3 linked regions of the Homo sapiens genome follow. The protein of the gene in region 2 purifies or fractionates together with the protein of the main gene of each other region. This does not show direct contact. Each region holds a gene or a part of one and is shown on either strand. Other genes may lie near its edges. The genes, in order: CCNT2, CDK6 and FKBP5.

Region 1 (3,181 bases), on a different chromosome or scaffold from region 2:
AAAGGTAATTTTATTGAATCTTCATTGGTGCTAATGATGGACAGTTAAAAAGATAGCTAGTGTATATTGTTATGGGTCAGTACTTATTAGTACTTCCAAAATTGAATTTGAAATGCTATGTATTCACTTTTCACTCTGTAAATGTAATTCTTTACAATGACTTTATTTATTAAAGGGCAGCCAGTTGTCATTTTTACAGGATTGTGTGAGCTATTCAAACTCTTCAACCCCTGAACAGGGTATTAAGCTTCCAAAATAATGATGGGGATAAATATGGAAATCCTTTTTAAGTTGTATTTCCATTAAACAAAAACCCTTATAATTCATACTATCATGAATTTGCTTTATCCATCTCATTTGCATAACAGTTCATCTGTCTGGTCCCATTAGGCTCTACCAAAGAAAGACTCTGATGAGTGGACATTATTACTGTGACTCTTGTAAGTAGCCATAAATAAACCAAAATAGTATCAAATTTAGGTATGAAATTCCACATGTGCAAAGTACTGTTAAGGTGATAACATTTTTGATGAGATTTAAAAAAATATTTGAAATATTAAAAAGCATTATCTTTAAACATCCTATAAAAGAGTGAGTCATTTTTAAGTTGTGTTTTCCCTAGATCACTGATTTGTTACCTTTACACAGAAGCACATTGCAAAGAAAGGCTTTATTTCTACCTCTTCCATTCAGTTTTCCAATATTGAGCTGTGTCCCTCTGAATATTTGCCTTAGCTATTTCAAAATAGGTATTTTCAGAACCAAAGCAAAGGGTGGTTTGTTCACTGAAACATTCTTAGAGGCCTACTTAACGGGCGGCAGTATCCGGTAGTGGTAAAACCTCACAGTTTCCTAATTGCAGGTATGTAAATACCAAAAAAGTCCTGTTGTCAGCCCTAGGTTTATCTTTGAAAGCAGTTAAATGTGCACCTTGGTCTTCCTCCGTGTGTTCAGATTCCTTCTGGTTAAAGTTCTTATTCAGAGTCATCTAAAAGAAATTTCTAACATGATGTATGGTTTCTTGAATGTCATGAGTGGCTGCGTATATTGCTTTGTAGCAACAGATTGTATTAATAATTAATAGAATACCTAATTTTTTTGGCCTATCCTCTTTGAACTAGAAATGACTACTTGAGGGCTATTTCAGAGAACCAATATGAAATGTTTTTGTTAGTACAAAATACCATTGCCTTAAAAGGTTTCAAGCACATTTTCTTTTCTATTTGAGAACTTAAATTGCTGACTTGTATTCGTTAAGCAACCTTAGAAATAAACCACTGCTTATATCTGCATGAATATTATGCATTTCATGAGTACAGTTAGTTGATTAGATATTTCAGGGTTTTGCATTTTCTATAGACATGGGGACTTTTTTAACATGGTAACGTCTTAGGAAAACCATTCTCTCAAGGTATTACACCATTTCCAATTTTATCCAAATGAAAAGCATATCTGCTTAAATTTAGGATGTCTTTGCTGAGAATATTTGGAGGCTCTTGTTAGGAAGAATCATGGATTCAGTATTTCTAACCTGATTACTGCCTCAGAGGCTGTCTTGAAGGGAGACAGTAGGATTCACTGACTACCTTTACCCAGATGAGGGATCAACAAATCTCACACTTAAACTAAATGAGTTGACAGGACAATAGGTGCTAATCTCATGTGCCCTAAGATGGACTTATTTAGATAGGGATTTTTGCATTGGAAAAGCAGCACATTCTCTGACCTTGGGTACCAAGCTATGATACTAATTTGAGAATCACATTCTGATACGTTAATATCAGAAATCAGTGAGCAACCTAATTGCTGTAAGCTGACATACATGGAAGCCGAAATCAAAAGGTTGCTTTTGTTAGTTTCCCTGGAGCATCTATTTTTGTAATACATTTTGCCAGTGGGACTGAAAAGCTCAAAATGTTTTAGACCTAATATCATACATTAATTTTCTGCTCTGCAGTGTCAATTTGGGCACAGCCAGTTTTTACCTCTGTGGCACCTTCTTTATAATTTACTGTTACCTATTCTGCCTGACAGATTGATTAAGTAGGTTGATAAGATCCATCGAAGATTGAATGGCTAGGAGTAATTCTGTTCTCGTATAGGCAACTTAACTTCACTGTGGAATCCATTTATCTCAAAGTTTGAGGGCTGTCTACTTTATTTTCAAGTTTGGGGCGGAAACTCAAAATCCCGAGCATTGCCACTTTAGTAGTTTGTTTGATTTGCCTATTGTTTAATAATGAGTACATTCTTATTAAGTGATGAGTACATTCTTAATTTTAAGGTATGTTTTTTTCAAGCAGCTTCATTTTATTAGGAAAAATACATACTCATTTGTTGTAAACAGTGATTGTGGGGTTTCATTTTCTGAATGTACTCAAAACTCCCAACAACAATTGAACAGGATGTTTGCTAATAGAAAATCTAAAACAGGAATATGTGTATATGGCATGAATTAGTCATTGACTTTAAGCTTCTTATCCATACAAGGAACTAATAAAATGTTTATTGACAACATAAATCCAAGGCTCTAACATGTCTTAAGTTAATGTGAATCAGAAGTAACTTTGAGGTGGGGCGCAGTGGCTCATGCCTGTAATCCCAGCACTTTGGGAGGCCAAGGCAGGCGGATAACCTGAGGTCAGGAGTTCAACACAACCCTGGTCAACATGGTGAAACCCTGTCTCTACTAAAAATACAAAAATTAGCCGGGTGTGGTGGTGCATGCCTGTAATCCCAGCTACTCGGGAGGCTGAGGCAAGAGAATCGCTTGAACCCAGGAGGCAGAGGTTGCAGAGAGCCCGAGATCGCACCACTGCACTCCAGCCTGGGCGACAGAGCAAGATTCCTTAACAACAACAAAAACAGAAGTAACTTTCAGTCCCTGGAAAATGTGAGATCTCTAGTATAATTGACCCTTTATCCAAGTAATTTCATGTATCATTCAGGAGTGCAGGCTCTGGGATCAAATGGTCCATGCTCTAGTCTCAGCCCTACCATTTAATAACAGAATGGCATTGGGTGAATTACTTGATCTCATGCTTTTTCTTCCCTACAAAGTGTTAGTAGTAGTACCTGTTCATCATAGAGTTGTGTAAGGCTTGGATGGTCAAGGAAGGCTAGATAGAATAGCATTAAAGAGAATCCTAATTGAGGGGTAGATGTGGGATATTGGAATGAT
Region 2 (2,737 bases):
TGTGTACAGAAGCAATCCAGTGTGGTAATAAAAAGCAAGGATTGCCTGTATAATTTATTATAAAATAAAAGGGATTTTAACAACCAACAATTCCCAACACCTCAAAAGCTTGTTGCATTTTTTGGTATTTGAGGTTTTTATCTGAAGGTTAAAGGGCAAGTGTTTGGTATAGAAGAGCAGTATGTGTTAAGAAAAGAAAAATATTGGTTCACGTAGAGTGCAAATTAGAACTAGAAAGTTTTATACGATTATCATTTTGAGATGTGTTAAAGTAGGTTTTCACTGTAAAATGTATTAGTGTTTCTGCATTGCCATAGGGCCTGGTTAAAACTTTCTCTTAGGTTTCAGGAAGACTGTCACATACAGTAAGCTTTTTTCCTTCTGACTTATAATAGAAAATGTTTTGAAAGTAAAAAAAAAAAATCTAATTTGGAAATTTGACTTGTTAGTTTCTGTGTTTGAAATCATGGTTCTAGAAATGTAGAAATTGTGTATATCAGATACTCATCTAGGCTGTGTGAACCAGCCCAAGATGACCAACATCCCCACACCTCTACATCTCTGTCCCCTGTATCTCTTCCTTTCTACCACTAAAGTGTTCCCTGCTACCATCCTGGCTTGTCCACATGGTGCTCTCCATCTTCCTCCACATCATGGACCACAGGTGTGCCTGTCTAGGCCTGGCCACCACTCCCAACTTGACCTAGCCACATTCATCTAGAGATGGTTCCTGATGCTGGGCACAGACTGTGCTCATGGCACCCATTAGAAATGCCTCTAGCATCTTTGTATGCATCTTGATTTTTAAACCAAGTCATTGTACAGAGCATTCAGTTTTGGCTGTGGTACCAAGAGAAAAACTAATCAAGAATATAAACCACATTCCAGGCTGCTGTTTTCTCTCCATCTACAGGCCACACTTTTACTGTATTTCTTCATACTTGAAATTCATTCTGCTATTTTCATATCAGGGTACAGACTTATAAGGGTGCATGTTCCTTAAAGGTGCATAATTATTCTTATTCCGTTTGCTTATATTGCTACAGAATGCTCTGTTTTGGTGCTTTGAGTTCTGCAGACCCAAGAAGCAGTGTGGAAATTCACTGCCTGGGACACAGTCTTATAAGAATGTTGGCAGGTGACTTTGTATCAGATGTTGCTTCTCTTTTCTCTGTACACAGATTGAGAGTTACCACAGTGGCCTGTCGGGTCCACCCTGTGGGTGCAGCACAGCTCTCTGAAAGCAAGAACCTTCCTACCTATTCTAACGTTTTTGCCCTCTAAGAAAAATGGCCTCAGGTATGGTATAGACATAGCAAGAGGGGAAGGGCTGTCTCACTCTAGCAACCATCCCTCCATTACACACAGAAAGCCCTCTTGAAGCAAAAGAAGAAGAAAGAAAGAAAGCTTATCTCTAAGGCTACTGTCTTCAGAATGCTCTGAGCTGAATGCTCTTGCTCCTTTCCCAAGAGGCAGATGAAAATATAGCCAGTTTATCTATACCCTTCCTATCTGAGGAGGAGAATAGAAAAGTAGGGTAAATATGTAACGTAAAATATGTCATTCAAGGACCACCAAAACTTTAAGTACCCTATCATTAAAAATCTGGTTTTAAAAGTAGCTCAAGTAAGGGATGCTTTGTGACCCAGGGTTTCTGAAGTCAGATAGCCATTCTTACCTGCCCCTTACTCTGACTTATTGGGAAAGGGAGAACTGCAGTGGTGTTTCTGTTGCAGTGGCAAAGGTAACATGTCAGAAAATTCAGAGGGTTGCATACCAATAATCCTTTGGAAACTGGATGTCTTACTGGGTGCTAGAATGAAAATGTAGGTATTTATTGTCAGATGATGAAGTTCATTGTTTTTTTCAAAATTGGTGTTGAAATATCACTGTCCAATGTGTTCACTTATGTGAAAGCTAAATTGAATGAGGCAAAAAGAGCAAATAGTTTGTATATTTGTAATACCTTTTGTATTTCTTACAATAAAAATATTGGTAGCAAATAAAAATAATAAAAACAATAACTTTAAACTGCTTTCTGGAGATGAATTACTCTCCTGGCTATTTTCTTTTTTACTTTAATGTAAAATGAGTATAACTGTAGTGAGTAAAATTCATTAAATTCCAAGTTTTAGCAGAATGTGTTTTTTTTCTTTCTTTTTTTTTTTTTTTTTTTTTTTTTGGTGCTTCTTATTTGCAACCTGGCCATGTGGTAGAAAGAATGTGTTTTAAAGTTTTACTTTAAGAGATTCCTTTTCAGGCTTCTAGTGTTTAAAAAGTAAATAACAGCTAAGTGAGCTTAGAACTCATTCAACAATTGGCCGGGCACGGTGGCTCATGCCTTTAATCCCAGTACTTTGGGAGGCCGAGGCAGGCAGATCACCAGAGGTCAGGAGTTCAAGACCAGGCTGGCCAACGTGGTGAAACCCTGTGTCTACTAAAAATACATGAAAACTAGCCGGGCATGGTGGCACGCGCCTGTAATCCCAGCTACTCAGGAGACTGAGGCAGGAGAATCACTTGAACCTGGGAAGTGGAGGTTGCAGTGACCTAAGATGGCGCCACTGCACTCCTGCCTAAGCAACAGAGCAAGACTCCATCTCAAAAAAAAAAAAGAACTCATTCAACAATCATGCGTTGCTTAATGACTGAGATACAGTCTGAGAGATGCATTGTTAGGGGATTTCATCGTTGTGAGAACATCATAGAGTGTACTTACACAAATACACACCTAGAC
Region 3 (3,660 bases), on a different chromosome or scaffold from region 2:
AAAGTAACTTCCTTTTCATTTTTTTAGTGGCATAGTCTAAAACTGCTCACAATCCTTTTGAAAGACTAAAGAATAGGCCAGGTGTGGTGGCTCATGCCTGTAATCCCAGCACTTTGGGAGGCCAAGGCAGGCGGATCACAAGGTCAGGAGTTCAAGACCAGCCTGGCCAACATAGTGAAACGCTGTCTCTACTAAAAATACAAAAAAAAATAGCTGGGCTTGGTGGCGGCCACCTGTAGTCCCCAGCTACTCGGGAGGCTGAGGCAGGAGAATCGCTGGAACCCGGGAGGCGGAGGTTGCAGTGAGCTGAGATGGCGCCATTGCACTCCAGCCCTGGAGACAGTGCGAGACTGTGTCTCAAAAAAAAAAAAAAAAAAAAAAAAAAAAAAGACTAAAGAATATTAGCACCAAAGAACATAGCCCAGAAGCCTTGCTGTACTACACCTGCTGAAGGGACGGATGGAAATGCTGCAGAGCAGCACTAGGCAGTGCTCAGGCACTGCCCCAAACCAGCCCACAGGCCATCGAGGCCTCCAAGGGAGTGGGAAAGGTACCTGGAGAGCCATCTCCAGAAGGAAAGAAAGAAACCAGCTGTACCAGGGTTTGCTGGAGGGGTTGCTTCACTTTGAGGATTTGCTTTTCTTTTGTACCCCCTCAAGAGCTGAGTACAAGTAATGACGCTTTTTTATCCTAGGGAGGCAAATACATGCAGGCGGTGATTCAGTATGGGAAGATAGTGTCCTGGTTAGAGATGGAATATGGTTTATCAGAAAAGGAATCGAAAGCTTCTGAATCATTTCTCCTTGCTGCCTTTCTGAACCTGGCCATGTGCTACCTGAAGCTTAGAGAATACACCAAAGCTGTTGAATGCTGTGACAAGGTAACATCGTGTCTCCTGTGAGATGGACTTTAGATACTCCAGATCTTTTCTCCATCTCTGTCTTTTGCTTCCTCTCAGCCAAAGGTTGCAGGATTTTTCATTTTGCTTTTTTTTATTTATTTGAATGTTTGGGATTATTTGTTTCTCAGTATGAATTGGGAAATTCAGCAAGATTTTTATTACAGTCAGACTTTTATGATACCTAGACTGTTTATCATAATGCATTCTGAAGAAAAGTTTTGATTAAAATTAAATAATTTTTATCCACGACCTTCCTTATAACTGTAGTATTTATATCAGAGTAGACGTATAACTCCTCAGGTTCAGTTTAATAAGAGAAGATTTAACTTAAGCTTTTCTGGACTTTAACAGACTGCAACTGTTCATATAAAGCATATATATAGGTCAATTTTTATTATAATCATTTATTCACTGATATGCATAAATAATATGAAAGGTCCACAGAGCATCAGCAGCCTTTTTATTTTTACATTTGTCTTATTAATACTATCTTTGGTCTTTTGAGTGCTTACACACAGTACTCTATAACAGTGGTTTATCATCTGTATCGTTATGTATCGTTCTGATATATTTATACACCAGCCGATACTATTTTAGGTATCTGGTCTCAGAGTGAACAGTATATATTATACTGTGGGTAAAAGTAAAAACTAATCATTGGATGTATCTTAAAGGTAGACATAAAAGGATAAGAAAAGCAAGGCAACTATTTTGTACATTCTTTGTGAGATTATTTTTGAATTTTGTGGATCAGTGTTTCCTATCGCATCCTCTCTCCCAAGACCAGTTATTAATTTTATATGTATTTTTTCGTTTTTTTCATACAGAGCGGAGAGAGAGAGAGAGAGAGTGTGTGCGCGCGCGCGTGTGTGTGTTTTGTTTGTTTTAGAGACAAGTTGTTGCTATTTTGCCCAGGCTGGGGTGCGGTGGCTATTAATACACATGAACATAATGTACTACAGCCTCAAACTCTGGGGCCCAAGCTATCCTCCCACCTCAGCCTCCTGAGTAGCTGGGACTACAAGTGCATGCCACCACACCCTGCTAATTTTTAAATTTACTTTTGTAGAGATGGGGGTCTTCCAAAGAGCTGGGATTAAAGTTGTGAGGTACCACACCCAGCACAGCCTTGACTACATTATTTTTCTGTCTTCTATTGACAGAAGCAGTCATATAGCATCACTATTAACCCTATCTTTGGCAATAGGAAGCCTGTTCTCCTTATTTTCCTCTTTTTTTTTTTTTTGGAGATGGAGTCTTTCTCTGTTACCCAGTCTGGAGTGCAATGGCACAATCTTGGCTCACTCTAACCTCCACCTCCCGAGTTCAAGCGATTCTCCTGCCTCAGCCTCCCAAGTAGCTTAGACCACAGGTGCCGACCACCACACCAGGCTAATTTTTGTATTTTTAGTAGAGACAGGGTTTCACCATGTTGGCCCGGCTGGTTTCCAATTCCTGACCTCAGGTGATTTGCCACCTCAGCTTCCCAAAGTGCTGGGATTACAGGTGTGAGCCACCACAACCCAGCAATTTTCTTTTAGCTTTGTTGATTATATCTTTCTCTTTAAAGAAGGTTTTAATGTTTATGTAGTCAGATTTGTCGTCTCCTTTCTAGTTAGAAAAGACTTCCCCACACCAAGATTATAAAAATAACTGAAGCCAGGCACAGTGGTTTACACCTGTGACCTGTAACCCCAGGACTTTCGGAGGCTGAGGCGAGAGGATTGCCTGAGCCCAGGAGATAGAGGCTGCAGTGAGCTGTGATTGAGCCACTGCCCTCCAGCCTGGGCGACAGAGTGAGACCCTGCCTCAAAAAAATAATGATTATATTTTACATATTTTAAAATAAAAAATAATTGAAACATTTTATGGTTTTTTTTAATATGTAAATATGGTTGATCTAGAATTTACTTTTGTGCTTACAATATGAGGTAAGAACTTTTTTTTTTTTTTTTTTTTGGAGACAAGAGTCTCACTCTGTCACCCAGCCTGGAGTGCAGTGGCACGATCTCAGCCCACTCCAACCTCCACCTCCCTGGTTCAAGCAATTCTCCTGCCTCAGCCTCCCAAGTAGCTGGGATTACAGGCGCCTGCCACCATGCCCAGCTAATTTTTGTATTTTCAGTAGAGACAGGATTTCGCCATGTTGGCCAGGCTGGTCTCGAACTCCTCACCTCAGGTGATCACCTGCCTCAGCCTCCCAAAGTGCTGGGATTAGGGTGTGAACCACTGCACCCGGCCTTAACTCTTATTTTCTATGTGGATAGCTGCCATCCTGGCCCCGTTTATTTTAAAGTTAACTCTCCACTGATTCACATTACCACCTTTGTCATTTTCAAATGTTTTTATATGCAGACACATGACTGTTTCTGAATGATTCGTTCTGTTCCACTGAGCTGTTTGTCCACATGCTAGTAACCAAACTGTCTTAATTTCAGTAGTTTTAAAGTTTGTCTTTTTCTCTGGTAAGACAAGTGCCTCTTATTTTTTTCTTTTTTCCCAAATTTTTTCAGCCATTCTTGGGCACTTATTTGTTCCAATGAACTTTAAAATGAACTTCTCAAGAGCCCCCTCTCAAATCTCCTTGGGATCTTTCTAGAAATTGCATTAAATGCAGAAAATAATTTGGGTAGTAAATTTTGATCAGTAGTATGTAATTATCTTGAGCCCCATTTTTTTAAATACACTTTTTCCATCTCCTTTGGCAAGAGAACTTTGGTAAGCTGTTTACTGAATTTATTAAAATTCGTCCTTTCTAA

The links.
Region 1: the proteins of CDK6 (region 2) and CCNT2 purify together in Homo sapiens (affinity purification with mass spectrometry; 3 studies listed by BioGRID and IntAct, with this or other methods). This does not show direct contact.
Region 3: the proteins of CDK6 (region 2) and FKBP5 purify together in Homo sapiens (affinity purification with mass spectrometry; 2 studies listed by BioGRID and IntAct, with this or other methods). This does not show direct contact.

What each region holds. Positions count from the first base shown.
Region 1 is NC_000002.12:134,956,822-134,960,002, forward strand, and holds the end of CCNT2 (cyclin-T2), read left to right. Parts: 3' UTR 1-2,521; downstream 2,522-3,181. UniProt on the Homo sapiens protein: Regulatory subunit of the cyclin-dependent kinase pair (CDK9/cyclin T) complex, also called positive transcription elongation factor B (P-TEFB), which is proposed to facilitate the transition from abortive to production elongation by phosphorylating the CTD (carboxy-terminal domain) of the large subunit of RNA polymerase II (RNAP II).
Region 2 is NC_000007.14:92,604,324-92,607,060, reverse strand, and holds the end of CDK6 (cyclin-dependent kinase 6), read left to right. Parts: 3' UTR 1-2,140; downstream 2,141-2,737. UniProt on the Homo sapiens protein: Serine/threonine-protein kinase involved in the control of the cell cycle and differentiation; promotes G1/S transition. Phosphorylates pRB/RB1 and NPM1.
Region 3 is NC_000006.12:35,577,256-35,580,915, reverse strand, and holds part of FKBP5 (peptidyl-prolyl cis-trans isomerase FKBP5), read left to right. Parts: exon of another isoform or gene 1-359; intron 360-694; coding exon 695-880; intron 881-3,660. UniProt on the Homo sapiens protein: Immunophilin protein with PPIase and co-chaperone activities. Component of unligated steroid receptors heterocomplexes through interaction with heat-shock protein 90 (HSP90).